Regions from separate parts of the Homo sapiens genome. Here regions 2, 3, 4 and 5 are each linked to region 1. Evidence: fine-mapped expression QTL. A gene starts in region 1. Each other region holds a variant in brackets. All regions are shown on one strand. Distances are from middle to middle.

The links. PIP is the estimated chance that this variant, and not a neighbour inherited with it, causes the effect.
Region 2: its variant is the best candidate, but not a certain one, in a credible set for the expression of PPP2R2D in whole blood (INTERVAL, PIP 0.71).
Region 3: its variant is the best candidate, but not a certain one, in a credible set for the expression of PPP2R2D in whole blood (Lepik 2017, PIP 0.69).
Region 4: its variant is the best candidate, but not a certain one, in a credible set for the expression of PPP2R2D in Th1/17 cells (Schmiedel 2018, PIP 0.68).
Region 5: its variant is the best candidate, but not a certain one, in a credible set for the expression of PPP2R2D in vagina (GTEx, PIP 0.54).

Annotation. Positions count from the first base shown.
Region 1 is chr10:131,898,069-131,904,194 of GRCh38, reverse strand. PPP2R2D (protein phosphatase 2 regulatory subunit Bdelta) reads right to left here and starts at 3,187. Exons shown (of 9, transcript NM_018461.5): 1 at 3,040-3,187; 2 at 2,865-2,957. The coding sequence starts at 3,046. RefSeq lists silencers at 2,378-2,427, 2,608-3,007, 3,078-3,587 and an enhancer at 3,828-3,927.
Region 2 is chr10:131,931,008-131,937,133 of GRCh38, reverse strand. PPP2R2D (protein phosphatase 2 regulatory subunit Bdelta) reads right to left here. Exons shown (of 9, transcript NM_018461.5): 3 at 2,579-2,676. Among named protein-coding and RNA genes, the nearest start is that of PPP2R2D, 33 kb to the right of the region's middle. RefSeq lists an enhancer at 1,574-2,773. The variant T/C (reference allele first, on the strand shown) is at 2,517.
Region 3 is chr10:131,993,043-131,999,168 of GRCh38, reverse strand. It overlaps LOC124902525 (a long non-coding RNA gene), which reads right to left and starts at 2,828. Exons shown (of 2, transcript XR_007062339.1): 1 at 2,798-2,828. RefSeq lists an enhancer at 2,153-3,139. The variant T/C (reference allele first, on the strand shown) is at 2,644.
Region 4 is chr10:131,939,380-131,945,505 of GRCh38, reverse strand. It overlaps PPP2R2D (protein phosphatase 2 regulatory subunit Bdelta), which reads right to left. Exons shown (of 9, transcript NM_018461.5): 4 at 5,310-5,475; 5 at 4,812-4,924; 6 at 1,361-1,538; 7 at 47-211. Among named protein-coding and RNA genes, the nearest start is that of BNIP3, 39 kb to the left of the region's middle. RefSeq lists an enhancer at 1-551. The variant C/T (reference allele first, on the strand shown) is at 3,414.
Region 5 is chr10:131,954,140-131,960,265 of GRCh38, reverse strand. PPP2R2D (protein phosphatase 2 regulatory subunit Bdelta) reads right to left here. Exons shown (of 9, transcript NM_018461.5): 9 at 432-4,582. The coding sequence ends at 4,303. Among named protein-coding and RNA genes, the nearest start is that of BNIP3, 25 kb to the left of the region's middle. The variant T/C (reference allele first, on the strand shown) is at 3,541.

The sequences.
Region 1 (6,126 bases):
TCTCGCTCTGACGCCCAGGCTGGAGTGCAATGGCACCATCTCGCCTCACTGCAACCTCCACCTCCCAGGTTTAAGCAATCCTCCTGTCTCAGTCTCCTGAGGAGCTGGAATTACAGGCCGGCCCTGCCACGCCTGGCTAATTTTTGTATTTTTAGTAGAGATGGGGTTTCGCCATATTGGCCAGGCTAGTCTCAAACTCCTGACCTCAAGTGATCCACCCGCCTCAGCCTCCCAGAGTGCTGGGGTTACAGGTGTGAGTCACCGTACCCAGCCACCCATCTCTTATCTCTCACCAACATCTCTCCCTCAAGGTTGCGTTTGGGCATGACCAGCTTCTTGATCCTTGCTGCTCAGCAATCCCTGGTGACTAACGACTACACTTCCCTTCATCATCACTGACTCTCTGGTGTTAATACAAAGCAACGGTATCACAACTATGGGACAAATCGATGGTGACTTATAAATGTGTTAATCTGGATGGGTTACTATGGCCAAAGCATACATGGATTAAAATAGACAGCTCTGAATACACAGAATAACCAAAACACATGCAGATAATTACCACAAAGCAATGTTACAAAAGAAACCACGACAACTCGAAATACCAAACTTTTGGATTTACTCAAAATTTAACTTAAAATAGGGATTTAAAACTGCAAAAAGTTCCCATCAGTTTAATTCAGAGAACAAAGTATTTGTCAAGATTTTTTTTTTTTTTTTTTTTTTTTGAGATGGAGCCTTGTTCTATTGTCCAGGCTGGAGGGCAATGGCACGATCTCCACTCACTGCAACCTCCACCACCCGGGTTCAAGTGATTCTCCTGCCTCAGCCTCCCAGGTAGCTGGGATTACATGCATGTGCCACCACGCCCGGCTAACTTCTGTATTTTTAGCAGAGACGGGGTTTCACTGTGTTGGCCAGGCTGGTCTCAAACTCCTGACCTCAAGTGATCTGTCCACCTTGGCCTCCCAAAGTGCTGGAATTATAGGCATGAGCCACAACACCCGGCCCAAGATTTTTTTTAAAGAAAGAATACTATTTTCATATGTGTACAGTCACATTTAAAATATACTACCTTAGTTATACTTAAATTTTAATTCATTCAGCTTATCAATAATTTTTTTTTTTTTAAGTAAAGAAACCAGGCAGGTGCGGTGGCTCACGCCTATAATCTCAGCACCTTGGGAGACTGACGTGGGCAGACCACTTGAGCCCAGGAGTTCAAGACCAGCCTGGGCAACATGGCGAAATCCCCTACAACAATACAAAAATTAGCCTGGTGTGGTGGTGCACGCGTGTGTGTGGTCCTAGCTACTTCAGAGACTGAGGTGGGCGAATCGCTTGAGCCTAGGAGGCAGAGGTTGCAGTGAGCCCAGATCGCACCACTGCACTCCATCCAGCCTGGGCTACAAAGTGAGACCCTGTCTCCAAAAAACAAAATAAAGAGTTAACAGAAATTAAGGCAAGCATTAAGCCCTCTCACTTTCCTACTCCCAAACAAGTTTTGCTTTACTTGCGACAGAAATCACACTTGAGTAAGGCTGAACTGTCACTTGCTTAGCATATGCAAAATCAAACAAAAAAAGTAATGCATTTTAAAGAAATAAAATCAATAAACTTTTTAGATCACATAAAATGCACCTAGTTTTAATCTCAAACCATATATATTACGCATTTCTTAGAGCCCAGTTTCACCTGCTTAATAACCTAGGCCCTGTTTGTCCCAGGGGGCGCAGAATCTCCAGATGTCCTCAGGGGTCATGTGCCAAACCAGACACTGCCAGGGAGAGGTACAGGGTAGGGAAGAGGGAGTAAAAGTTCACGGGGTTGGGGGGGCCGAGATGGAGGGAAGTGAACAGGACGTCTGACAAGGGGCTTTTAGTAACTTGAGGCAGGGAAGGTGTATTTGGTGCAAACACCAATCATTTTTAAGAAAAGGTTAAAGGTTTACAATGTTCAGTAAGATGTATGAACAACAACAAAAAAGTCACTATGACTCTGAATCTGAAATATTAATCAAACTTCTAAGACTCGACCAAGTTCTCCATTCAACGGTGAAAAAGGAAAGCTACATAGCTTTTTAACTTTAAGGTGACAGGTAAGCTTCATGGGAAGCTGGGGTGGGAGGCACTTCCCAGTTCCCTCCCACCACCCTAAAACTTTGTGCCTGGGCCAATTTGAGAGTATGATTTAAGGAAAAGACCAGTGAACTTCAAGTAATACCATGAAGTTCAAGACTAAAATCTGGAATAGAGACCTTAAAATATATCAGTAGAGAAAGTAGCAGTACCTCACAGTAAAATTCAAGGATTTTAGAACCGCAGAAAGCAGACCTTAAGAATCAGGGAGCCGAGGCAACCAGCTCGCTCAAGAGCGCACCGCCGATGAAACGCAGAGCCTGGTGGGGGCCGAGGCCCCGACCCAGCCCTAGGCGCGTTCCCAGCCTCTGGGCCATTGTGCCGCGCTGCCCGAGCGCACGATATGGACTCCGTTCCCGTCCCCGGCTCCGCCGCGGTCTCCTCAGTTCCGCCCCAGGCAGGAGGCAGCCCCGGGCTTCGGTTCCGCCCCGGGCAGGAGGCAGCCCCAGGCGCTGGGTTCGGAGGACCCGGCCGCCCGTGACCTTGGTGACTTACATAAGTCCCGCCGCGGGCCCGACGCCTCCGCCCGTGCCCCGCGGGCCGGGACAGCGGACAGAGGACGGCCGCCCCCCGATCACGGCCCCCAGCTCGGCCCCTGGCCCCTGCCCCGCCCGGCCCCCATCCTCCTGCCTGCCTTCCACGGACGCTTGGGGCCCGGAGGCCGCGCGCGGCCGGGCTGGGAGCTGTCCGCGAGGGTCCCGGGGCGGGGCGCGGCGCGGGGCTCACCTTCGGCCACGTCCTCGTCGATGGCCCCCTTGACCTGCGAGAAGCACCACTGGAAGTCGTTGCCGCCCGCGGGGCAGCCGCCGCCTCCGGCTCCTGCAAACACAACGGGGCGGTCAGGCCGGCCGCGGCCCCCGCCCGCCCCCGTGGTCCCCGCCGGCCCGCGCAGACCCCTCACCTGCCATGGCAGCCGGCGGCGGGACGGGCGGGGACCGCGGCAGACCAGGGAGACGGCCTCCGCGCCGCTGCAGCCGAGCGCTCAGCCCCGGGGCCGCCACCACCGCCGGCGCCGCCGCCGCCGCCGCCGCCGCCGGGGAGGGATTTTTTTCCCTTTTCAAAATGGCGCCCAATGCCCGTCGCCCCGCTCGATGACGTCATCGCCCTCCGCCTCCTCGGACGGGCAGCGGACGGGGCGGGCCGCGGGGGCTGCCGGGGGCGCCCAATGCGCCTGCGCCCGGCGCCGCTCGGCTGTAGGGGGGAAGGGACGCCTGGGCGACTGCGGAGGGAAGCCGGGGTCGCCGGGCGCAGGCCAGCTCCTCGGCCCTCGGCCCTAGGCCTCCCGCAGTGGTCCGGTGTGCACCCGGCGCTCCCCAGAAGACTAGCGCCGCCGGCCGCCCCTACTCTCCGGGGACTCCCGGAGAGCCTAAGCTGCGGCCGGACACGCCTTCAGGGCGCCGCTTGGCCGGACACGCCCCCATCCCGCATCGGCCAATGGAAACGTGGGTTCTCCGTGGAACCGCCAATGGAGGACGCGCTTGGCGGCGGTGGGCGGGCATGTGGGCCGGCCTCACCTGAGCGCGCCGTACCTGAGCGCTGCCTCCCGCCCACTGCCCCCGACGCGGAGTCTCGCTCTGTTCCCCGGGCTGGAGTGCGGGGGCGCGATCTCGACTCCCTAAAAGCCTCGACCTCCTGGGCTCAATCCATCCTACTGCTTCAGCCTCGGAAGTAGCTGCGAGCACAGGCACGCGCCGCCAGGCTCGCTGATTTTTAAATTTTTTGTAGAGACGGGGGTCTATGTTGCTCAGGCTGGTCTCGAACTCCTGGGCTCGAGCCATCTGCCGGCCTCGGTCTCCCAATCCTGTCCACCTCCCTTTCGGAGCGCACCGTTGCTCACCAGATGGCTACCTTAGGGGTTCTTGGAGCTCCCAGTGCAGTCTTAGGGAAACAGGGCCGATCGTTTCATTTGCGGGTGGTTTTCTCTGGCATACTGAGCGATCATGGGTGCTCCTCGACTTACAGTGGGGCTACCCTCCCCGCAAATAAGCCCTTCCTAAGTCAAAAATGCATCTAATACCCAATCTACCCGTCGTAAAGTTGAAAAATCTGAAGTCGAGCTATCATCAGGGGGACTGTCCCTATGGGATTGATGTCCGGAATCAGAACTTCTTTCAGGGTAGCTGCGGTGGGCACTGATGGTATTGCACCACTAAAAGACAGTCGCTGCAAATCAGGAACATTCGTCCACTCCATTAATATTATTTATTGACAGCTCCTGCCACGTGCGGCACACTCCACAGCCCTGGGGGTGAGAGGTTAACAGAGCAGAGAAATCTCAGCCCTGGTAGAGCTTACCTTTCAGTGGGGGAGACAGACAATAAGGAAATAAATACATAATAAGTCGGAGCTGGAGAGAAAAATCAGGGAAGAAGGAAATGTGTATGGGGAGAGTTGGAGTCTTGCACGGGGTGACTGGAGAAGACTCAAGGATAAAGAGCAAACCATGCAGACGTCTAGGAAAGCTTGGCCAGGAAGGGGAGACCACCAAGTGCCAGGACAGGAAGGAGGGCCATGCCTGGCATGGGCAGGAGGCAGCCAGAAGCTGCGTGGGTGCAGAGTGAGTGGAGGGGAGGCCAGGGGTTGGAGTCAAGGCAGGGAGGTAAGTGGAGGAGGATGGACAGTGGGCAGGCCATTTAGGGGACTTGGACTCTGAATGAGATGGGCTCATGAACAGAAGACGATCGTGATGGACTTGGGCTTTTGGATGCTCTGCTGAGAATAGCTTGTGGGGACCCAAAGAGGGGAAGCAGGGAGACCAATCAGGTGGCCAGCTGGGCTGACCAGGCATGGGGATGAGGATAGAGTGGTGAACATGGGGTGGGGTGGTGAGAACCAGTCAGATTTCAGAGAAAAGTGCTTCGACAGCAGAGCCCCTGGGATTTGCTGATGGAAAAGATGCGGTGTGAGAGAAAGCAGGGACTTAGGAATGCCTGCTCTCGGGTGGTCTGAGCACCTGGAAGGATGGAGTTTCTGCAGCAGAAGGCACAGCTGGGTGGGGGCGGTGCAGCCCGACCAGAGGTTCGCTGTCAACACATAGTGCTGTTGCACAGACAGGCTGGGAGCACACAGGGAAGTCAGAGCCAGAGCATCAAGGTGAGAGCATTTAGAGGTCATTTCAAGTCAGGAAACTGGGTGAGGTCACCTCAGGAGGGAGGACAGATGGGGGACAGGACCAAGGACAGAGCCCTGAAGGGGTGAGGACGTGGAGGATGAGTGAGCAGCCTGCGAGGTGGGCTCCTGGAGAACCCATCTCCAGGATCCACTGAAGACAGGAGGGAGTGGCTGCTCTGTGATGCTATGTGATGAGTATACAGGAGTGACCATTTGGTTGTAGGGACTGGGAGGCCATTACTGACTTGGACGGAGCGGTGGCTATGGAATGGACTCAGATCACAAGTTTGCAGAGGGCTCTGGGGACAGTGGCAGGAGAGGAACTAGAGGCAGTGAATACCTACTTCTCTGTTGAGGAGAAGAAGAGCAGAAAAATGGGGCTGTAATCTTGTTTTTAAAATGTAGATTTAGCCTATCTGCCCAGGAAGACACTTGAAAACCTGAATTAATGACCAGATCTCTTTTATTTGTTAACTTAAAAACCTGACAATTTATAAATTTAGAAAAAGAGGAACTTTATTTCTTATAAATGGTTACAGCCAGCAAGGTGGCCATCCCCCAGGCCAAGATGGGAGATGGCTCTTCGTAGGAGGAGGAGTTGGGGCAGGAGCTCTATGCTGAACGGGTTGGCTAAACATACATAGACAACAGGCTTTGGGAGGAGCTATGAATACTCAGGAAGGGGCTCCTGACACGTGTATTATGTAACATAGGACCCAATCTCACTCTGTCGGGGAGACTAAACATTTGAATATATTACGACTGTAATCCCAGCACTTTGGGAGGCCAAGTCTGGCAGGTTACCTGAGGTCAGGAGTTCGAGATCAGCCTGGCTAACATGGCGAAACCCCCTGTCTACTAAAAATACAAAAATTAG
Region 2 (6,126 bases), 33 kb before region 1:
TGCTCACTCACTAGCCTTCCGAATCCTCCACGCTCCTTCGATTCTAAGACGCACACGTGGACGCCTGTGAACCTTGCTGCAGCTTCTAACTGGGAGCTGGGGTCGCTTGATGGGCAGCAGCTTCACCCTCTTGGCGGCTGCAACACCATCCGCGGCCTCCGGCCATGGATGAACACGTGCACTGCCGCCCTTACCCACAGACACACTCAAGTCCACAGGGAAGGGCACATGGGGCAACCAGCCGAATGCTCTAAAATGGATGGACCGTGAAAGCCTTTCAGACGTGAACCGAAATACGAAGAAAAAGAAAAAAGGCTGCCTGGGGTTTGTCAAGTTGCAGCTGGCTGAACAACTTCAGTAGGGACTTGCTCCTGTATAAATCTGTCACTCACATAACAACTTCATCTTAAAAAAGCACTTAACACTCTATAATACCCAATATCTTTTAGAACGAGATGCTTGACTTTTATCAGGGTTTGTTTTATATTTGAGACTATTATTATTTAGGTTAAGCAACGATTCACAAAAACAAGAGAAATTCCATTTTCTAACCTAAAATCTGTTAGGCAGGGATGAGGCATCTTCCCTAAGGCTATCGCTACAATGACAGACTTTTTAAATAAGCTAAAAGTGAAGTCTTGCATTAAGATAGCCATGACTCAACAATTTGTTAAAAAATCCTCCTGCTGGCCAGGCGTGGTGGCCCATGCCTGTAATCCCAGCACTTTGGGAGGCCGAGGTGGGCGGATCACCTGAGGTCAGGAGTTCAAGACCAACCTGGCCAACGGTGAAACCCCATCGCTACTAAAATACAAAAATTAGCTGGTCGTGGTGGTGCATGCCTGTAATCCCAGCGACTTGGGAGGCTGAGTCAGGGCGAACCACTTAAACCCGGGAGACAGAGGTTGCAGTGAGCCAAGATCACGCCATTGCACTCCAGCCCAGGTGACAGAGCAAGACTCCATCTCAAAAAAACAAAAACTCCTCCTGCTTTAAAAGTAACATTTAAACACCACAACCCACTTTTACTTCTGTTGAGAAAGGTAAGGTGTATGGTTCTTTTTTTTTTTGAGATGAAGTCTCACTCTTGTTGCCCAGGCTGGAGTGCAATGGCACGATCTTGGCTCACCGCAACCTCTGCCTCCTGGGTTCAAGCGATTCTCCTGCCTCAGCCTCCCAAGTAGCTGGGATTACAGGCATGTGCCACCACACCCGGCTAATTTTGTATTTTTCGTAGAGACAGGGTTTCTCCATGTTGGTCAGGCTAGTCTTGAACTTCCGACCTCAGGTGATCAGCCCACCTCGGCCTCCCAAATTGCTGGGATTACAGGCGTGAGCCACTGCGCCTGGCCAAGGTATATGGTTCTTAAGTAGCATTGTGTGATATTCTACTTCTGAGATAAAAATGCAAAATTATAAATGTATCAAACTGTGAAGAAATATTAACGATATACTTATTATTCACAAAAGGATTTCTTACCATCCCAAATCAGAGAAAACAGGATTTAAAAAAATCTTTAACTACCTGGACATAATCAAAATAAAGCTGCAACAGGTATGTTTTGATAATGAAATTGGTTAGCACCTGTCAATTTTCCTCATGTGGCCCAGGGACAGTCCTCCTCCAGGCTCCCCTTCCTGGGGGGCAGGGCCAGCACTTCCTGTGTACAGATCTGCAGAGAGGGGAACCAGGGCCCACCAACCTCTAAACCAAAGTTCGTCACACAAATTTAGAGACCAGACTTTGGAGATGATAAACTGTCCCTTTCATCTGTTAGGAAACTCAGAGACAGGAAGGGCAAGGGACTGTATTTATAAGGAAAAGGCAGGACAAATATTTCAGACCCCAGGCTTAGCTGCACAGAGCCAGGGTTCTTGCCAGGAATCCTTGACTACCAAATCATGATCTTGCTTCCTTTATCACTGCTCATTAGGACCTCTGAGGAGGCTCAACAGAAAGAAGAGGGAGGGGGCTGGCAAGGCATCAGTGAAAAGGCAGTGCCGTGACCGGGAAGCCAGTGCTTGCTTATGAGCTGTGGGCTCCTCCAAGGCCCACACTCTGAAGGTTCCCTTCCCTCCAGACAGGTGAAGCCTTCAAGGGGGCATGGAGGAGTGAGTGCTGCTCACCTCTCCCTGAAGGGAAGAGAGAATTCACACCCCTGCCAGACTTCTCTGCAGGAAGTGCTGAGAAAGCTGCTCACACTTCATGGCAGGGCAGGACGGCGGGGCTGGGCCAGTACCTGCATAGGCGTATAAAGGGATTTTCAGAGAGAGCCGCGTGAGTTCTTATGGAATGAAAGCACATAAATGCACCTCACCACCACCCTGCATCCTTCATGGGGTCCCCAGCGGAATCTCCTCCCTACTCTGAAGACAAAGGCCTTGGAGACTTCACCGGGGCTCAGCAGCTGAGGCCAGAACTTAGATAATTTCTGAAAGGAGATTCTGTATGGCTAATGTGATGGAACTGAATCTTAATGAAATGAGACAATGAGAAAATAATTTTGCTTCCTCCC[T/C]TCTAAGTTATATGCGAAAGGTTGAATAATTGCATTTGATTTGTGGACTGAAAATTACTGACCTCTTGTTCACGCTGAAAAATAACAACTCTGCCGCCCTTGTCTCCTGTTGCAAGAAGATCTCCAGAGTAATTAAACTCAACGGTGGAAATGATGTCCGCTGTCAACAAAATACAGAAGCGATTTACCGGATGCGGTTTTGGGGAGGAGTCACAATACCAAAAAATTAATAAAAAAGAGCAAAAGGACGATAAACATATACAACTTTCTCCGAGACTAAAGCAAAACTGTCTTGGCAAACTTGTAATTACCAAGTGGCCACTTATTGGTTCTGGTGCAGAGAACCTGCCGGCACAGGTGAATGGGCGAGTTTTACTCCACCCCCATGCCTGGGCCCCTGGAGCACCAGGATTTATCTAGACTAGGTTGTCTTGATAAAAGGATAAAGGGTAGAAATTTAGAAAATTCATCTGTAAAAGAAAAAAATAGAGGAAAAAAATGGGTCCTGAAGAATGTTGCCTAATTTTATAATGCATACCTAATGTTAACTTTTAAAATAAATCTGATTCTTATATAATAGTAATAAAAATGTTGTTAATATTCTATGCAATAACTTTTGTTGGCTTCTGTACAATGTAATATTCTAGACAGTAGAAGTTCCATGTCATTGTCTGGATACAGTTACCACCACTGATAATGATGACATCATTACCAAGTGAGACAACTGTCAGGGAGGCCTTGAGATCTCTGACAGCATAACAAAGACCCCAGACACCAGCTCAACAGAGGCCAAGACCCCGGGGCAGAAGGAACACCACCACTAAGCAGTGAGAAAGTCCTCAGGTGTCCTGAGGCTAACCCTTCGGGTTGGGAAGGGAGTGTCTGGATTTATGACCAACTATTAAATTAAAAAAAAAAAATCCCAGGTCTGTGACTTGGACAAAGATTTTCTGTTTTCAGGGGGAGTTCCATGACAGACTCTGGAGGAGGCTGGCTTCTCCGCAGTGCTGCTGTGTCGCGTGCGGACTGAGGATAAGGCCTGGCGTGGCCTCCCGAGGGGCCATCAGAGCTTGTCCTATGGCCACAGTGGGACTCCTCGCCTTACCCTGCAGTGTGGGGGAGTCTCAGGAACAGCTAGAACACTACAAGCTCGCCTCCCTGCTGGGCACCAACTCAAGGGCTCGCAGTGACCTGGGCACACCCAGGGCCCACGGTACGTTTATAGTAGGAAGTAAAAAAACAACTAAATGGCTATTGTAAACAACCTACTAAGAAGAAATGGGCCCTAAAGCTGAAGTGACTCAAACAGCTCCCTCCAAAAGTGGCTAGAATGCAATTCTGACAGGTCTGCAAAGGCGTTTTAATCGTGTTAGTGAAGGATTTCCACCAACATCTACACAGCAAGCTCCCGCGGCTGGCACTGTTCGCTGGCCTCACACGGGAATCCCTGGCCTGGGAGTTCTTTCTTTTCAAAATCTTCAGACTTTGGAAGAAGGATTAGGTTGTTTCTTAGAAGCGTCACTATTAAATTACTGAAAATAACCTAACTTGCTTAAATGAAACTAAAATATTATGTATTGGATTAAAAAGGTCTAAATCTATGTCATTTATACCCAGAGGGTGTATAAAATTACATAATTAATTGTATTCTAGCTCTGTCAGTGATTTTCAAACTTAATTATAATGGACTGAGTCTTTTAAAAGAGAAACTCCTGTAACTGTCGGTGCTGGGAAGTTTCATTAAGCTACACAAACACGCGTGAACCTAAAATTAGAAACACTGCAGTGCTCAATCTCTAAACCCAAACTAAATACACAAAATTACAAAACCAACAACGTTTAAATTATCAACATCAAATTAATCTGATGGAGACAGTTTTTAAAAACCAGACTGATGCTGAAGGCATAAATATGGTACTAAAGGCACCAAGTTAGGTTTTTTTTGTGTGTTTTTTTTTTTTTTTTTTTTTTGAGACAGGCTGGAGTACAGTGGCGCGATCTTGGCTCACCGCAACCTCCATCTCCAGGGTGCAAGTGATTCTCATGTCTCAGCCTCCTGCGTCGCCGGGATTACAGGCGTGCACCACCACACCCAGCTAATTTTTGTATTTTTAGTAGAGACAGGGTTTTGCCATGTTGACCAGAATTGTCTCGAATTCCTGGCCTCACGTCATCAGCCCGCTTCAGTCTCAAGTGATCAACTTGCCTCAGCTTCCCAAAGTGAGTTAGGTATTTTAAACTACCATAAACTTCACCATGGCTGCGTTCTGCCTCCATTTCCCTGCTGGGGTAGGGGAGTGCTTCTGCCCACGGTACAGCCTGGCACCTCCTGGCCATCCCATGGAGACATCGGGTCTCTTCTCAGCCAGACAGGCCCCACTGCCATGTCACACTCCACCTGCCGTGGCACTGCTGCCAGCTGGCTGTCTGGCTGTGCAATCCTCATTCAACATCCGGGTCCCATCAAATCCGCAAAGTGTCCGCAGCCACCCCGAGTCCTCTCAGACCTCCCGCCGAACATGGTGGGCCATGCGTGTGTGTTCATCTCCTTTACCCTCCCACCCCCGCCCAGGTGTCAGAAGAAAGCAGAAAAAGCATCTATGTGAGCAGCTTTAACAAACGTGGGGGCAGCAAGGGGCTGGCACAGAGATGCAGAAAGTCTTCACAGAGCTGCTTGGTCCCCAGGTCGCCCCCCATTCACCCTGCCAGGTGGGAGCACACAGTTTCTTGTTCCTCAGACACTGGCTACCGGCCGCCATCCCCAGGGGTGCCCTCCGAAATACTCCAGCCCTGGGGAAAGGGCCTCAATATTCAAACATTTGGGTTTTACAAGGACATGGCCAACCACAGTGAAGCTGCCAGCTGAAAAGCCCAGGCCCACAGAAACAGCAGCCTCGCTACACTCAGAAATAGAAACCAACAGCCACGACCTGCAGAGCCTCAAGAAGTCACCAAAACAAAGATGGGTGGGGCCAGGCGCAGTGGCTCATGCCTGTAATCCCAGCACTTTGGGAGGCCAAGGCGGGTGGATCACCTGAGGTCAGGAGTTCGAGACCAGCCTGGCCAACATGGCAAAGCCCCATCTCTACTAAAAATACAAAAATCAGCTAGGCATGGTGGTGTGTATCTATAATCACAGCTACTCGGGAGGCTGAGGCAGGAGAATCGCTTGAACCAGGGAGGTGGGGATTGCAGGAAGCTGAGATCACGCCACTGCACTCCAGCCTGGGCAACAAAGCAAGATTCCATCTCAGTAAAAAATAACAAAAAAACAAAAACAAGGATGGAATCTGAACAAAGAGAGACGGGAAAGCCCGAATCATGTTCTGGAGATCTGCTGACTACTACCAGCCGCTACAGTACCAGGGTTTGGCTGAATGCTTACTAGGAGCCAGGTGCTATCCTAACCACGCACAAGCCCTGTACTAACGTAGCCAGGCCTCTAAGAGCCCCAGGAAGCAGGGCTATCATCATCCCCGCCTGATGGAGGGGAGAGGAGAGGGATGCTGGACGTGGGACCCTGCGTGCTCAAGGTAGCAAGCCCCTGCGGGTGAGTGGGGCAGGACACCTGGGCTGGTCTCAGCCAGGACACCCAGTGGGGCCCCCAGGA
Region 3 (6,126 bases), 95 kb before region 1:
CCTCCTGTGCGAGATAAGGAAAGCACACCTCCCCTCGCTGGCTATTAGGAGGTAACAACACAGGGCAGGAGTGTCAGGCACAGGCACCACCCACCAAGCACTGTAATTTGCCAGGCACCAAATGCAGTGCCCTCGTGAACTCACGGAATCATGGCAGCCTCAGAGGGCAGTGCTGTTGTGGTCACCCTCATTTTAAAGATGGGGACCTTCACAGAGGTGAGTCGCTTCTCCAAGTGACACAGCTTCTTAGTAGCAGAGCCCAGATACCAGCCCTAGCTGTCCCCTGCTTTCTGCTCCCCTGCTATCTGCAGACTCTCCCACTGCCACCTCACACAGTGGCAAAAGCCTGTGTTCTCTTCTCTACTCCCTGCTGACCTTTCCCCATCGCCACCACGTGTCAGCAAAACTGTGGACTTGTGCTTTGAAAGAGACAGAGCCGGGTGTAGCGGCTCATGCCTGTAATACCAACATTTCGGGAGGCCTAGGTGGGAGGATCACTTGAGGCCAGGAGTTTGAGATCAGCCTGGGCAATATAGTGAGAACTTGTTTCTACAAAAAATAAAAAATTAGCCAGGCCTGGTGGCACATGCCTGCAGTCCCAGCTCCTTGGGAAGCTGAGAAGAGGGGATCCCTTGAGCCCAGGAGGTCAGGGCTGCAGTGACCTGTGATTGCACCACTGCGCTCCAGCCTAGGAGACAGAGCAAGACCCTGTCTCTAAAAACTAAAAATAAAAAAATGAAAGAGACAGGGTCCACGGGACAGACGAGTGTTAGGCATGTTGGTCCCATGTCAGTGTGCAGTGAAATTGACAGGAGGCACTGGCTTTGGGCAGGGCTCCCGCACTAAGCCCAACAGACCAAACCCAAACAGGGTTGTTTGCGCTGAGTTTCCACACCACCAAGAGAAAATTGTTTGAGCTTCTAAGAAATCAGGAGAGAAGGAGATCGTAGCCAAATCCCCAAACAGGCCAGTTTCAGCTAGCACAGTAGGGAAGCCCTCTGCTTAAACCTTTAACTGTGAAAAGACCAATCAGCTTTCTGTTCTGGTTTCTGCTTTCCTCGGCCCTTTTCTCTATTTTATCGAACGAGGTGTTGCCCATTCTAGAAGAGCAAACGCAAGCCAATGAAGGCCTCTAAACTAGATCTGCTGTAACTCTGTCTTCTGACACTACCTTGACTGGTTATTCCAGCCAGAACATTCTGCAATCTCTCACGGAGGAGCAACGGAGCTATTGCTTCATGTACCCAAGGACAAATAAACACGCCCGCCCAGCACTGCTGGGATTCCGGCCTGGGGGATCACGTCTAGCCTCCGGCAGGAATGTGACTTGAATCTAGTGGCTGCTTCCTGTTTTGAAGGTTTTCCAGCAAGCAGTCCAGCCTCTTTTCAAAGATCACCCTCTGCTTTCCACTCACCAGCAAAGTACAAGTACACACTCGAGACATGTTTGTGTGCACACTGTTTACAATGCGGAATATTTCATCATACCAACTCCTAACAATAGCCCCAGCATAGTACAAATATCATTGTGAATTCATAGAAAAGTGTTTTCCTGCAAGAGGGAGGGAGACAGATCAGTCTGCAGGCGCACAGCTGGGTGCCACAGAGGTGGAAGAATTACCCCTCCAGCGCCCGCCCCCTGATGGTCCCCTGTGCATATAGTGTCACTGATGTTTGAAGGTAACAGAAGAATTACATTCATTTGAATAAGCCCCCACCCACTTTTGCAGCTTTGCGAGTTATTAATAGAAGAGAAACAAATCACTTGTATTGTTCCTTCCCCCAGTGTTCTTCCCCACCCCACACCCACCACCGGGTGAAAATCTGGCCCCGTTTTCATGCCCATTTTCGATTTGGTCTCACTGAAGTAATTTTTGTGTCCTGGCCGGTGTAACCATCAAAACTCCCAACTTTACTCTGAGTTGAAATGCCTCCTGCTCCAGCCTGGGCTCTGCCCACTTCCTCTCCAGTTGTAGCTCCTGACCCTCTGGGGACAGCCCAAAGGCCAGCGGCAAGGGCCGGGGGTCTTTGCTGCCTACACACTGCTTGGGCTCCCAGGTGACCAAAGCTGACTGTCCCTCTTGGGCCACTTTTTCGGGGTCTGGAGTCTCTCTGCCTTCGGGTGAATACTTCCAGCCTCCTTCAGTTTCACTCTTCCAGGTCCCCACTTCAGGCAGATTCTAGACAAGCCCAGCCCCACTCCCCTTCACATGGGGTCCCCCTGGGTCCCAGAAGCCAGGTCCTTGACCTGCCTGCAAAGGTGCAGCTTCCCGCTCTGCTCAGCAACCTTTCATTTAGAGGGGCAGGCAGTGTGATCCCAGCTCTGCCCTCTCTGTGTGCCAGGACACGAGGACATGTTTGGGTGGTACCAGGCTGGGGAAATGTAGCAGTCAACAAGTGTCCACTTGAGCTGGTGGCCATGAATTTAAAATGAAACCAATCCACATGGCTGTGTCTCCTCTCTTTCCACTCCTGGCAGCTTGGGTGCAGGCCCGGTGCCCAGCTGGGCTTGGCCAACTGGGTGAGAGGGACAAGGCAGCTGAGGGTGCACTCCAGGGAATGAGCAGATGGAGCTGGACTAAGGCGTGAGGAGCTACAGGCAGCGAGGGGCCGTGGAGGGGAAGCAGGCAGGACCGAGACCCC[T/C]GAGCTGCCAGTTCCCAGCAGTGAGCACAGCCGGAGAGGAGGAAGGGCTTCATTGCTTCAGCATGACGTCCCTGCGGCTGCTAAGGCTGCGCGTCTTTTCAGTTCATTGGCCATTTCTCTGTTTTCATGAGGTGCCAGTTCTTTTTCGACTTACCAGATTGTACTGCTGGGGCCGGGTATGGTGGCTCACGCCTGTCATCCCAGTGCTTTGGGAGGCTGAGGCAGGTGGATCACTTGGCTCAGGAGTTTGAGACCAGCCTGGGCAAAATGGTGGGACCCTGTCTCTACAAAAAAAAAAAAAGAAAGAAAGAAAGAAAAAAAAATTAGCTGGGCACAGAGGGGTGCACCTGTAGTCCCAACTACTCAGGTAGCTGAGGTGGGATGGCTGCTTGAGCCCAGGAGAACGAGGTTGCAGTGAGCTGAGATCACACCACTGCATTCCAGCCTGGGCGACAGAACCAGACCCTGTCTCAAAAACAAACAAAAAAAAAGATTGTGTTGTTTGTACATTTACTGTGATTTTTAGATCCATTTGCATATTCCGTTACTAATCCTTTGCCTATTATGTGGGTGGTGGATATCTTTTCAGTTCAGTCATGGAGTGAATGTACAAAAATCCATTTTACCTCAATAAAACGGATGCGCCACTCTGTAAAAAAAGAACAGTATAATTCCTGCCTGCATGAGTCCTGGACAGTGTTAAACGGGTCATTCAATGGCAAGTGCTCAGAACATTGTGGGGCCCAGATAAGGCAAAGGAGAAGCTGAGCTGTCTTTATGATCACCGTTATGATCAGTTTTGTCCTTTAAGAACACGCTATGTCTTATAATCCTTAGTAATGGCTTCTTTTTCTGTTTTTAGAGAAGACCCGGTCAGCTTGGGTGCAGTCCTGGGTAGGATCTGGGGGCCCTGAATAGTGTCTGTTATATTTTAACATAAAGTTTTATGATTTTCTTTGTACGTGTCTTGAGTCTTGAACATTTTTCTTTTTTTGAGACAGGGGTCTCACTCTCTCACTCTGTTGCCCAGGCTGGAGTGCAGTGGTACGATCTTGGCTCACTGCAGCCTCGACCTCCCAGGCTCAGGTGATCCTCTGACCTCGGCCTCCAGGTAGCTGGGACCACAGGCACCTGCCACTATGCCCACCTAATTTTTTGTATAGATGAGTTTTTGCCACGTTGCCTAGGCTGGTCTCGAACTCCTGGCCTCAAGGGATCTTCCCACCTCAGCCTCCCAAATCTTTTTTTAAAATTAAAAAAACTTTTATTTTTTACTTTTTTAAGAGATGAGGTCTCTTTATATTGTCCAGGCTGGTTTCAAACTCCTGGGCTTAAGAGATCCTCCCACTTCAGCCTCCTGAGTAACTGGGATGACAGGCACAAGCCTTTCCTTGAACATTTCTTCTTAAATTTATTCTTAGATTTTGTTGTTGTTGCTCTTACAAATGAGGTGGTGTTCATCTCTAAAATGGTCATCACCAGCATATAAGAAAGCTACTGATTTATACATGCTCACCTCTCAACACATACTTTATTGCATTCTTATTTGTCAAATAGTTTTTCAGTTGATTTTCTTGGATTTTTTAGGTGAACAATTTTACTATTCTTTGTGAATTTATATTCAGCAAATGTTAACAGAATACCTGCTATATACCAGGCATGGTTCTAGGTGCTCAATGTACAGCAGTGACCCTAAAAGACAAGGATCCATACCCTCATGGAGCTTACATACGGTGGGGATGATAGTGGGCAATAGAGACAGTGTGTCTGTTTGGTATTTGAAAAACTTCATTTCTCCATCCTGCCTTAGGGCATGGCCTAAGCCCCTCAGAACACAGCTGAGTAGCAGGGGTGCTGATGACAGCCACTGGCCTGCTGCCCACTGAAATGGAAATGCCACTCATATTTCACAGCCAAGCACGGTGCTCACGATGGACTTCTGGTAAACATGCTTTATCAGGAAAGCTTCTGAGTTGCAAGTAATAGAGACCAGCTCTGGCTGATGGAATTGGAAAACACCTTTGCTGACAGTGTTGGAGGGCTCACAGGTGGCTGGGAGGGCCCAGATTTGAGAACTGGGCAGGAACAAAGAGCAGCCACATGGCCAGGACAGCAGAGTCAGCCAGTCCTGCAGGTAAACCATGGCCATCGAGGTGGAGCATGAAGCACAAGCACTACCCCTTCTATGCTGGCACCAGGGGTGGCTCACGCCTATAATCCCAGCACTCCAGAAGGCCTAGATCGGCAGATCACTTGCGCCCAGGAGTTCAAGAGTAGCCTGGGCAACATGGGGAAATCCCAGGTCTAAAAAAAATACAAAATTTAGCTGGATGGGGTGACATGCACTTGTATTTCCAGCTACTTGGGAGGCTGAGGTGGGAGGATTGCTTGAGCCCGGGAGGTCAAGGCTGCAGTGAGCCAGCTGTGACTGTGCCACTGCACTCCAGCCTGGATGACAGAGTGAAGCCCTGTCTCAAAAAAAAATTTCCCCTGGAGCCTCTGGAGGGAGTGCAGCCCTGCTGGCACCTTGGTTTCTGCCCAGTGAAACTGATGTTGAACTTCTGGCCTCAAGAACTGTGAGAGAATAACTTTGTGGTAATTTGTTATAGCAGCTACAGAAAACTAATATACTAGGACACAAGAAGCATGAACTATTAAGGAAATCAATAAATTGGACTTTGTAAAAATTGAAAACTTTGTTTTTCCAAAGACACTTATGAAAAGGCAAACCATAGACTAGGTGTAAATATTTGCAAACACATATCTGACAGAAGGACTTGTATCCAGAATAAACACAGAACTCAGAACTAAATAACACAACCCAGTTAAAAACTAGGCGAAAGATTTGAACTGACACTTCACTAAGGAAGATATACAAATGGCAAGCAAAGTTTGTGGGTTTATGAAAAGATGTCACGATAGGGAAATGCAAGTTAAAATCACGAGACGGCAGCACACACCCATTAGAATGGCTACAATTAAAAAGCCCGGCTAAACCACAGTTGGCGTGGGTGTTCAGCCACTGGCACTCTCCTGCTGCTGGGAAAGTAACATGTGCGAGCACTTTGGAGAACACGATGGCAGCTCCTTAAAAAGCTAAGCACACCCTCCCCATACGACCCAGCCGCTGCACTCCATGGCATTTACCTGCAAGAAATGAAAGAACATGTCGATACAAACGCTGGCACATGAATGTGAACGTTCCCAGCAGCTCGATTTGCCAGCGGCAAGAACTGAAAACATCCCAAATGTCCAACAGGTGAACAGTAAACAAATGGTGGCACATCCATACAACGGATGCTGCTCAGCCATAAAGAGGAACCGACTACTGATGAATGCATGCATCACCGACGAATCCCAAAGTCATTACACTGAGTGGAAGCAGCCAGATGAGGAACCTTTTGGAGATAACGGGCATGTTCATTATCCTGACGGTCTTGTGGTGTCTACAGATGTAAATTTCATCAAATTGTAACTTTAAAT
Region 4 (6,126 bases), 41 kb before region 1:
CCTGGGTGACAGAGCCAGACTCCATCTCAACAACAGACGCACTTACACTTGGAGTGTCTGTCGCACAGGGCCGAGGAGCGCATGTCACACAGGCGGATGGTCCCTTTGCTACTGCTGTAGACGAACACGTTGCACTGGTGCGGGTGGAACTCGGCTGCAGTGATGACTTCGGTCAGCTCCTCCATGTTAGCAGGCTTGATGTCCACGATGTCTGGGAGTGCATGGTTAAGGCACAGTGCTCAGCTCAGCTGGTTGTTAATTAGTCTACATTCAGTCACGCGAAATAGGACGCCAAATAATCCACGCAGTGAGGTTTAAGGGATTAGCTATTAAGAAGGCTGGTTACACATCCCGAATTCCAAAGGAGCGCCTGGTAAGGGGATTGGGATGAGCACACTCAGACTACAGCAACGCCCCGGCCCAGGGGGAGACACAGACAAGCGAACACCGCTTTCATCTTGCTGCTATTATTAATGTTATACAGAAAGCCCTTAATAGCAAGATAGTACATACTTAATCATATAAATAGGAAAACCAAGCTAGTACCATCTGTGCAAAATCCCACACTCCCACACAAAACTACAACACAAGAATGCCGCCAAATTCCAAAAGATGCTGCTCTTCCTGACATGAAGAGCTTATTCTGTGTAGCTAGAACAGATCCAACAGAAATCCTATACAGAAATCCTTCAACTGAAAAAAATAAGAAAGGGCAGAATTCAGCTGTGGGCCAATTCAGACTAGCAGTCCCAGTTTCACCCTTCAAGCTGAAACAACTAAGAAAACCAACATACGACATGGAACCCCAGCTCAAGCCACTGGACAGCAGAGGGAGGACGGCAGGGACCCTGGAGAGGCTGCAGACGAAGCAAGCCCCATGCTCCCGGCTGCTGGCTGGAAAGGGGCCCATGTGAGGAGGGCTGGGGCCACCCAGACTGTGCACAGCCACAGAAGAACACAGGTTCTAACTGGAAGCTGCTGCTCAGATGGGTGATTAAACACTGCTCTAACCTAAGCCAGTATTTTCTATTATTCATTAGCAAATTTAGAAAAAAAAAAAGAACACATAATGTTGGTTTTTCAAATGTAGCCTATTTAAAACTGCCTCTGATTAAACCAGGCAGGCAGTGGACTTCAGGTAATTCCCATTATACAGATAACTTTTTCCCAAAGGTAGAAAGAAATTTGTATTTTTAGGGACAAACATTTCAAATCACAGAGAACTTACATCACAGGCTGCTGTGCAGTGATGGTATTTACAAGACTAGACTCCGAGATACAGGTGTATAAAGGGACGAGAGAAATTACTATCTAAAGAGCACCCTCGGGAAGACGCCAGTGTCCCTCTGAGGAAGGATACTAAAGCTTCTATCTGTGATTTCTAAGTGCCATAAATTAATTCTCAGGTCATCTGCAGAAAGATATGTTTCATGATCACTATTTACTGAAATGGAATTTATATGATATGTGTGAGCATTTGCAAAAATTCGCCGTGGACTCGCTTCTACCATAAGATCCATGGGCTTCAATATTGGGACCTAAAAATGGAAGGAAATAGGAATTCAAAACAAAGATCACAGCAGCACATAATTAGAACACTTATAGTAGATAACGAAAGAGGACAAGTTTATATTCATGGCTAAGTAATAATTCTGTACAGGCAATACCCCCAAATAACCAATTAGCAGAGTTATGAAAATATGCTACAAAATGGAATACTGTCTATTCCAAGTCTTCCCCTTGCTTCCATTACCGAGGTCGACATGTTCCTGCTGAAGAGAAGATCAGCTGGCAGGGTAACAAACTGCCCAGGCACCGAGGCCTGCGGCTCCCTCTCCTGTGTGTCCTCCAGTGGCCACACTGAGGCGCTGGACAGCAAAGTCCTCCTGGGTGGCTCAGCTGCACCCCTCCCTTTGTCCTCTCCTTGCAGCTAGATGCACACACCTCTTCTCACTGCACTAGGACTATGCTTCTCGGTGCAAACCCCACAAACCTCCACTGGCTCCAGGTACTGGCAGGGTGCACAGCAGGGTGCTGGGGAGCTGAGGATATTCCATTTCTTGGTCTGGGGCTGGCTACATGGGCATGTGCACCCTACAAACATTCATGGAGCTGGTCACTTATAGGGCAGATGTCTTATCTGGAGGTATGTATTATATATTACACTTCACTTGAGGTTAAAACAAAAAGTAGAAGGTACCTCCCGCCCCCATCTCTGTGTTGAGTGCTGTGGTCAGGGAGGCTTCCTAGGGAAGCCCAATTCGCACAGAAATAGAAAGGACAGAGAGGAGTGGGCGCTGGCTGCAGGCCGCCTATGGTCAGAGGTGAGAGCTCAGGCGTGAGGAATAGCATCACACATGAAAAAAGGAAAAAGGCCTGTGTCTCACTAACATCCAGCTGGAAGAAAAACATAAGCTTTAAAATCAAAACAAAAAATTAATGATAGTATTTTTTGTTATTCTTGTAATTAGAAACCAAAAGGGAGAGCCTTGAAAGCTTAGGGGAAAAAGAAAAGCTCTCAACTGAGTCTTGTCTGGCTGAATTCTGTAAAAAACCAACTTGGAAAAGTGTGTGTAGGGAGGCTTCCCTCATTTTAACCCAGGTAGTGCTGACCACACCCTTGGATTCTCTAGAGCAAGAAGAGTCAGTTCTACCAAGTTCAGGCTTAAAAACACACACCTACCCCAATCCTCTAACAAATTTCCCATTAATCAAAACATATGATAGCTGCAATACTTACAAAGATTCCTTCTTTTATTGAAAACATTTTAATTTGCATATAAAATAATTTGCTTTCATTTTTAGAGATGGGGTCTGGCTATGTTGCCCAGGCTGGTCTTTGAACTCCTGGGCTCAAGTGATCCTCCCATCTCGGTCTCCCAAAGTGCTGGGATTACAGGTATGAGCCACCATACCTGGCCAAGATTTCTTCTTTTAATTATATCCCTTTTCTGGCACTAAAATAATTTAAGAGCAAAAATTTAAAAACAGCAACATGTCTGACTCTTACCCAGTTAGGCTCAGATACATAAATAGCCCACTCTGAACTGTTAGAGAGGTAAGATCTCAAATACCGACCTAAGTCAATGTACAGAATTACCTGTCTGTGGTCTCTTCCCCATGCACCAACTAATGAAATAACTAGACTTCTCACACACCTTCAGTAGGGCCACCAATTATACCCGTTTTATTTAGGCTAAACCTACAAAAGCAGCCTTGAATAAAACCAAGACTGGGCCTAGTAAAGGCCTACTGTTCTCCCAAAATGAGCACGTGAGCTGATGGGTTGTGGCAGGGTCTGATCAGGAGGAACAGGGGTTTCTGAGGGTGGGGTGTGCACAGGTAACTGGGTGGGAGGTGGTGTTGGCTGCAGAAGAGATGGACAAGGCTGGAGGGGGTCAAGTGCCCACCCT[C/T]GGGGGTCCCATCACACTTCTACTTTAGGATCAGCAGTTTCATGATGATGGAACTGCACAACTCGTGTTACTGTCACTAAAAGTGATTTACACTAATTCAGGGGTGCAAAGGCGGCAGCACTGTGTATCAGACATCACCAACATTTTGGATCAAAACATCTTGGTTCAAATTAGGACCCTATAAACTAGATTTTCAGCAAATGCCACAGCCTTTCTCGCTTTGATGAACTCATAGGAAATACGGTGACAACATCGATGTGAGAAGTCTGAGGACACTCCTCCTGAGGAATGCACAACCCCAGGTGTAGCCACCCCACACGGCAAAGCTGGAGAAATGGCATCAGAACAGACCCAACATCACTCCCAGAGGCACATGTGTTAGGGAAAGGCTTCTGCGGTACAGCGTCCTCTGTAGCACTCTCCAAGACTAATGTGGAATGGGCTCACTCACTCAGTCTTCACTTGATAAACAATAGTGTAAAAGGGGCTGAAATCTCATTAAAAACCAACCAAACCACCCAACTCAACCACCCACCCCCCGCAACCAAACCACCCAACCACCCAAACAACCAACGGTTTTCCAATCTAGTAACGGCACCCCCTTGGGACCAGGCAGAGTTTCCTTCCAGGGGACACACCTCTGCACAGGTGCTGGTTTCTCACCAAGACACACCTGGGCTCGAGCCCAGTTTGCCGGACACCCTTCACCATGTTCCATCTAATTTAAGACAACATCAGTGGTGCGTAGCACCAGGCCAATTATAAGACATTGAGGTTTTGAGTTTTAGCCGGTTTCATAAATGTTAAAATATGAAAAAATTTAGGCATCAGAATTGATGAAATATGATCATTTCATACTACCAACAATGGAGCAAATAATTTAACAATTAAAAAAGTAATGATGCTCATGGATGGACAGGTGGAGAGTTCTGAACCATCAGCATCTGCCTAAACCAACCCCAAAGAAATTCCCCGAGAAGCGTCCTGAATGTACCTGTGGCCCACAGCTCATCTTTCGACCTGCAACCTGTGCTACTGCACCTGTGAGGTGTTCTGAATTTCATCTGAACTCCAACCTCCCAGGTGCTGTTCTGAACCTTCTGAGAGAAGGGTGGTTGCTATGTCCACAAAGATTTCTGCTGTAGAATTAAATATGAGTTTTCCCCTTAGTATTGCTGTGTTTCCTAAGGACCACATGTGACTTTCTGCCTTTGTGAAAACAGGAGAAAGACCTTGCTTTTAAACACACACATGAGTGCAAACGACTTTCAGGAATCACGAGGCAGACCTCACAGCAGACCTCACAGTACTCCACCGCGCAGCACTCTCCAGACAGCAGACTGAAACGTTTATTCTTAACTTCTCAACAGCATTGGATAAAGCAAAGGCAACGTGTACCCGTAGCGCCGTGATCCTAAATGGGTCTCGAAGTCTTCCATCTTCGTCTTTCAGGTTATAACCTTCTGCTCTTTTATCCCGTTCACTTATTTTCCATAATTTTATAGTTTTATCTGAAAATAAAAACCTCATTCTCCATATGAAAAGAAAAACTATAACATGCATCACTACTGTTTGAGTACTGGTATTAGAAAGCGGTGTGGTCCTATATTGGGTTATAAGCTATGGGGTCTCTGAACATGAATATTTCCAATTGGAGGTGTTTTGTACAATAAAGAAAGATGTGCAGACGTGCAGAGTAACAGCATAATAAAGTGCACGTGTGGTTTTTGTTGCATACTTTGAATTTTCAACCTATCACTTGCTACCCTAGATAACTTACCCTCCCCCCAAAATTTAAAGCAGGAATAACTTCTAAAATAAAAAGGAATCTACACACACACAGAAAATTAAAAATAAAAAACTAAATCAAACAGCCACTTAGAACACAATTCTTACCATTTGTAGACAGTAGAAAATGAGCAGCATTCTGTTGTGGTAACCACCTAATTTTATTAATTTTTTCCTCAATTTCTAGACTTTTCAAATAGTCAAACTCCGGTTCATGACTTTGAAAGGTGCTGTAAACATTATATTCTCCCCTAGAATGAGGGCGGCTTTTATTCTGCAAGGAAACATGAGAGCTGTTTTAATGAACAAAGCACAGTGTAGAGAAAATTTCAGTACTATAAATTTGAATATCAAATGACCATACATATTTTTTAAAGCTAAAAAATCCTGGCTCAAAAAAATCTCAGATGAAACTCAGGGAAAAAAAAAAAAAAAAGAACGAACTTGATTTCCGACTCTTCGACTCCACTTCTAGGTATGCATCTGGAGCAGGTCTGCCGAATGCAGCCTTGCTGTATTTTCTGGAGCAGGTCTGTCAAATGCAGCCTGCCGTATTTTCTGAAGCAGGCCTGCCGAATGCAGCCTGCCGTATTTTCTGGAGCAGGTCTGCCGAATTCAGCCTGTCGAATGTAGCCTGCTGTGTTTTCTGGAGCAGGTCTGCTGAATGCAGCCTGCCGTATTTTCTGAAGCAGGTCTGCCAAACGCAGCCTGCCGTGTTCTCTGGAGCAGGTCTGCCAAATACAGCCTGCCGTATTTTCTGGAGCAGGTCTGCCGAATGCAGCCTGCCGTGTTTTCTGGAGCAGGTCTGCCGAATGCAGCCTGCCGTGTTTTCTGGAGCAGGTCTGCCGAATGCAGCCTGCCGTGTTTTCTGGAGCAGGTCTGCCGAATGCAGCCTGCCGTGTTTTCTGGAGCAGGTCTGCCGAAT
Region 5 (6,126 bases), 56 kb before region 1:
ACTTTAAGCAGGAAAGAGAAGTTTTCTCCGCACCTGTTGAGGGCACGTCTTCCTCCGCGCCTGTTGAGGGCACTTCTCTAAAGTGAATGGATCCTGCTTTTTGCGGACATAGGTGCGTGGAATTGCCAGCGCCTCTCAGAACATCAAGACTGCACTGGGGAGAACCCACAGAAACGGACAGGACTGCTGGCCAGGTGGCTTCCCCCGCAGGCGCCCCAGAGCTAGGTGACGACACCTCCAGGGAACGTGCGCCGCAGACCTCAAGGCAGTGGCAGTTCCACGGGAGCAGCAGTGCCACGTGGAACCTCTACACACGGGACCCGCCTGGGCTGCACCTTCTGCTCTGCCCTGGGGGTGGAGGAGGTGGGCTATTTAGTGGGAAATACATTCTAGAGGAAGATGGAAAAGGGTGTCCAAATACGCAGTGAAAATCCAGTTAAACATTTAAAATTTATTGAACTTTTTGGTCAAAATAGTTGAACAAATATATACAATCCCATTTTACTAGAACTGTCTTAAGGACCAGGGTTGACTAATGCTTAAATAACTGTTCCACACCTCAGACTTTGTAAATTGTGTCACAATCAATATACAGTATATAAATTATTTTTTAGTTAAAATAAAGGTACCTTTAGATTCTCAATTTCTAACTTAATGTGAACTCAAGTGGCACTGTGTTAGCATTGATTCAGGGTAATGACGGACATCCTGTTCTTGCCCATGTGGATTAGTAATCAGCACACACCTTCACCTCCACAGGGGGATGGGGGATCAACACACACCTTCATCTCCACAGGGGGACCGGGGATCAGCACACGCCTTCATCTCCACAGGGGGATGGGGGATCAGCACACACCTTCATCTCCACAGTGGGATGGCGGATCAGCACACGCCTTCATCTCCACAGGGGGATGGGGGATGAGCACACGCCTTCATCTCCACAGGGGGATGGCGGATCAGCACACGCCTTCATCTCCACAGGGGGACGGCGGATCAGCACACGCCTTCATCTCCACAGGGGGACGGGGGATCAGCACACGCCTTCATCTCCACAGGAGGACGGGGGATCAGCACACACCTTCATCTCCACAGGGGGACCGGGGATCAGCACACACCTTCATCTCCACAGGGGGATGGGGGATCAGCACACACCTTCATCTCCACAGTGGGATGGCGGATCAGCACACGCCTTCATCTCCACAGGGGGATGGGGGATGAGCACACGCCTTCATCTCCACAGGGGGATGGGGGATCAGCACACGCCTTCATCTCCACAGTGGGATGGCGGATCAGCACACGCCTTCATCTCCACAGGGGGATGGGGGATCAGCACACACCTTTATCTCCACAGGGGGATGGGGGATCAGCACACGCCTTCATCTCCACAGTGGGATGGCGGATCAGCACACGCCTTCATCTCCACAGGGGGATGGGGGATCAGCACACGCCTCCATCTCCACAGGGGGACGGGGGATCAGCACACACCTCCATCTCCACAGGGGGACGGGGGACCAGCACACACCTCCATCTCCACAGGGGCACGAGGAAGCAGCACACACCTTCATCTCCACAGGAGGACGGGGGATCAGCACACATCTTCATCTCCACAGGGGGATGGGGGATCAGCACACACCTCCATCTCCACAGGGGGACAAGAGATCAGCACACACCTTCATCCCCACAGGGGGACAGGGGATCAGCATACCCCTTCATCTCCACAGGGGGATGGGGGATCAGCACACACCTTCATCTCCACAGGGGGACGGGGGATCAGCATACCCCTTCATCTCCACAGGGGGATGGGGGATCAGCACACACCTTCATCCCCACAGGGGGATGGGGGATCAGCACACACCTCCATCTCCACAGGGGCATGAGGAATCAGCACACACCTTCATCTCCACAGGAAGACGGGGGATCAGCACACCCCTTCATCTCCACAGGGGGATGGGGGATCAGCACACACCTTCATCTCCACAGGGGGACGGGGGATCAGCAGTACACACCTTCATCTAGATAGGGGAACAGGGGATCAGTACACACCTCTATCTCCACAGGGGCACGAGGGATCAGCACACACCTCCATCTCCACAGGGCATGGGGGATCAGCACACCCCTTCATCTCCACAGGGGGACGGGGATCAGCACACACCTTCATCTCCACAGGGGGACGGGGGATCAACACACCCCTTCATCTCCACATGGGGATGGGGGATCAGCACACACCTTCATCTCCACAGGGGGACGGGGGATCAGCACACGCCTCCATGTCCACAGGGGCACGGGGGATCAGCACACCCCTTCATCTTCACAGGGAGATGGGGGATCAGCACACACCTTCATCTCCACAGGGGGACGGGGATCAGCACACACCATCTCCACAGGGGGACAGGGGATCAACACACCCCTTCATCTCCACATGGGGATGGGGGATCAGCACACACCTTCATCTCCACAGGGGGATGGGGATCAGCACACGCCTCCATCTCCACAGGGGCGCGGGGGATTGGCACACCCCTTCATCTCCACAGGGAGATGGGGGATCAGCACACACCTTCATCTCCACAGGGGGACGGGGGATCAGCACACCCCTTCATCTCCACAGTGGGACAGGGGATCAGCATATCCCTTCATCTCCACAGGGGGATGGGGATCAGCACACACCTTCATCTCCACAGGGAGATGGGGGATCAGCACGCACCTTCATCTCCACAGGGGCACGGGGGATCAGCACACACCTTCATCTCCACAGGGGGACGGGGGATCAGCACACACCTTCATCCAGACAGGGGCATGAGGAATCAGCACACACCTTCATCTAGACAGGGGGATGGGATGGGGGATCAGCACACACCTCCATCTCCACAGGGGCACGAGGGAGCAGCACACACCTCCATCTCCACAGGGCACAGGGGATCAGCACACACCTCCTTCTCCACAGGGGCACAGGCAATCAGCACATACCTTCATCTAGACAGGGTGACGGGCGATCAGCACACACCTCCATCTCCACAGCAGCAGGAGGAATCAACACACACCTTCATCTCCACAGGCGGACGGGGGATCAGCACACACCTCCATCTCCACAGGGGCACGGGAGCCCGACTCCCCACTCCCCTCGGGGACACGTAGTGGGCGTGTGTTAAATCCCACGGAAGCAAGCTCTGGTCACTCAGCATTGGTACAGCTCTGTATTATTTGTCTTGGAAAATCTTGATTTCTGGTATCAAAGATCCTACTTTGAAAATAAACCAACGTACTGGTGGCATCGTGTAATTAAAATTGCTTAATTTTGCTGGCTTGAAATGCAGGATGAAATTTAGCATGCATGTAATTTTAGCAATGTTTAAAAAGTATACTTTCCCCAAAGTGCTTTTTCAAAAGCCTTAGAAAGCAAGCACGTATTTCTTCAACTGTAGTGAATTTGAAGCTACTTTAAACCAGGCTTACTGGATGGCAGCAATTTTGGTTCTTCCTTGCAATTTTCTTTCTCAGAGGTGGCCTCGGTTCTGGCTTTTCCCAGACCTTACCTGGTGTATC[T/C]GATGGGCTACTTCTACAGAAACACAGCGGGCAGCAGCTTGGGGACAGAAATGCTGCACACATACCCCCACGCTGCCAAAGAAGGACACACATTTCTCAAACAGTTAGTTCCAAAGAAGAACCCTGCATAACTTCATTCTATGCAATAAAATTAAATAAAAAGACAATACTTCTGTTTGGATTTAAAAACACTTTATAGTGTGTTGTTTTTATTGAGCGCTCACACCCGAAGGGGTGGCGGCGGATGCTGTGGGTGAGTGGGGCCGCCTGAGCCTGCTCGGGCCACATCCACACATCCACAGAGTCCACCTGGACTCGGAGGAAGGCCGAGAGGACACGGACGGTGGCCACACCACGCTGCAGTGAAGGCCCAAGTGTGATGGCAGAGAAAGAGGGAAAGTTGGAGAAAGAGCGGTATCTGACAATAACTTTTCTCTTGGATGTTAATTTTTTGGTCTATAAATTGGAAAGGAAGGCTCGGACTGAAATAAATACATTTATTCTGAGTAATGACCTTTTGGGAGCAGTGTCCGTCAACTCTGCTTCGAGAGCGTCTCCACGTGAGCAGCAGCGCCTGTCTCGCGCCTCGCCGAGGCGGAACCACACCGGGCCTCCAGCGGAGGCGGCTTTCTCCTGTGTCTGTGAAGGGAAGTAGCAGGTGCGTCACTGTTCTTAATGGAGCGGACAATGATGCCTTTTCTCTGACAGAAAAATGTCCGGCTTAACTATGCAAGACAAGACTTGGTCCTCACGTTCGCGTCTCTAGTTGATTTTGTCCTGGAATATGTACAAGTTATTGGTGGCAGCCACGGCAATGACATTGTCCACGGGGTGCCAGGCTGTGTGCAGGATCTTCTTGTTGAAGTCCAGACTGTCCACACTGATCTCGTCTTTCCTCCGCTTACCCCCCGTACACACCTTCCGGGGTTTGAGGCTGGCGCGCGGTTTGCTGCTCTCTCTCGAGGCCTCCAGGGTCACATCCCTCCGCGTGTCTCTATCAAACATCCTGAAGAAGTTGTTATAGGACCCGGTCATGATGGCGCTGTTCAAAACAAGAGCAGACAGCAGCACTCCTCAGTGGGGGGAGCGGCAGCAAGGACTCAGACCCCACCCCTGGGGTGCACAGCGCACGCCACCCTCCCCCACAACCCAGTTACTTTCAGAAATCAGGAATGATCAATCACAATGGGCAGAAGAGAAATGCAGTGAAAATGTGTACCGAGCTTTATCTATAATCATGTCAGTAAGAATCCATGTCACAGGAGAAACAAAATAATGGAGTCACACTTTTAACATTAGTGTATTTTTTGAAACAACCCCACCTATTTATCTCACTCATGAATAACAGCACAGTTTATTTTTAAGCCTTATGTTCTGCAATTTGTCAATGATCCATAATGACCTGAACATAATCCTTATCATGTTCAACAGTTACTAGTCATATCTGTCAATGTTTCTTTGGAGTTAAACTGCTTTTCTATTAATTTCAAAAAGTTTCTTTCAAATGAGGCAACGGATAGAAATAGTAAAAATCCACTGGGCAAAGTGTGGCAGAATTTTAGAACAACTGCATTTCACACACATTCCAGACAATACAATACCGTCCATGCTTTTGTTTCTTCAAGATCAACTGTAATGGCTTTCAAATGTCTCTGCTGTCGAAAAATTCTACTACCGCACACATCCTCATGATATAACTTCATAATACTGGTAAAAACCTCTGCAATCTTACATTTTCTACAAAAATGACAGAAAAATAGCTGAATGATGCAAACGCTGCCATGATTTGACCCATGGCTTCATGAGTCCAGTTTCTGATGAAAGATGTGTTCAAACAATGCCCTTCTGGTTTCTCCAGCCGTCCTTGAAGCTCGCCTCCTCTTCCTATTTTGACACTAACCCGCGCCCTCACGTCCTGCCCCCATGGTCATGCGCGGTGAGAGGCCTTTCACGCTGGCGCGTCTTCAAGGTGCCATGAGAAAGAAGCGGGCCGCTTCCCTTCCATGGCCCAGCACTGACCCTGGCTGCTGGCAAATACCTAGTGTCTGACTGACCTTGTCTAAAACTTCAAAGCAGGGGAAAAAAAAAAAAAAAAGACGAACTCAGAGAAGAGAAACTGCATTCAGCGATCCATGTTTATTTCCCATCTCCTGCTTCCATCCAGGAGCCCACAGCGCCACAGAGGCGGGAGACACAAGGTGTGCCCAGCGCCCTCCAGCAATGCCAAGCTGTGCACGTGGTCTTGGAACAGGGGTATGCAGCCAAGTTGGCACGTGAGGGCCATTGACTGGGGGTTCCCCAAATTAGTTTCCACATAAAACACAATGTTTACGAAAGGGTAAGTAATAAGAATGTGTGAATCTGAAGCTTACATTTATGTTATTAAAACTCAACAGTAACCATTATTCAGAACACAGACGACAGATGATGTATGGCCGACACTGACTGGAATTGCTGGTGCATGGTAATAACGAAAAGCACATCAGCTTTCATACAGATTTATGATCACTTTTAAATTCTCGACAGATAGTGCCAGCCCCAGAGTGGGTGTTTCCACACTGCAAACAAGGGCGCTGCCCAGCAGCC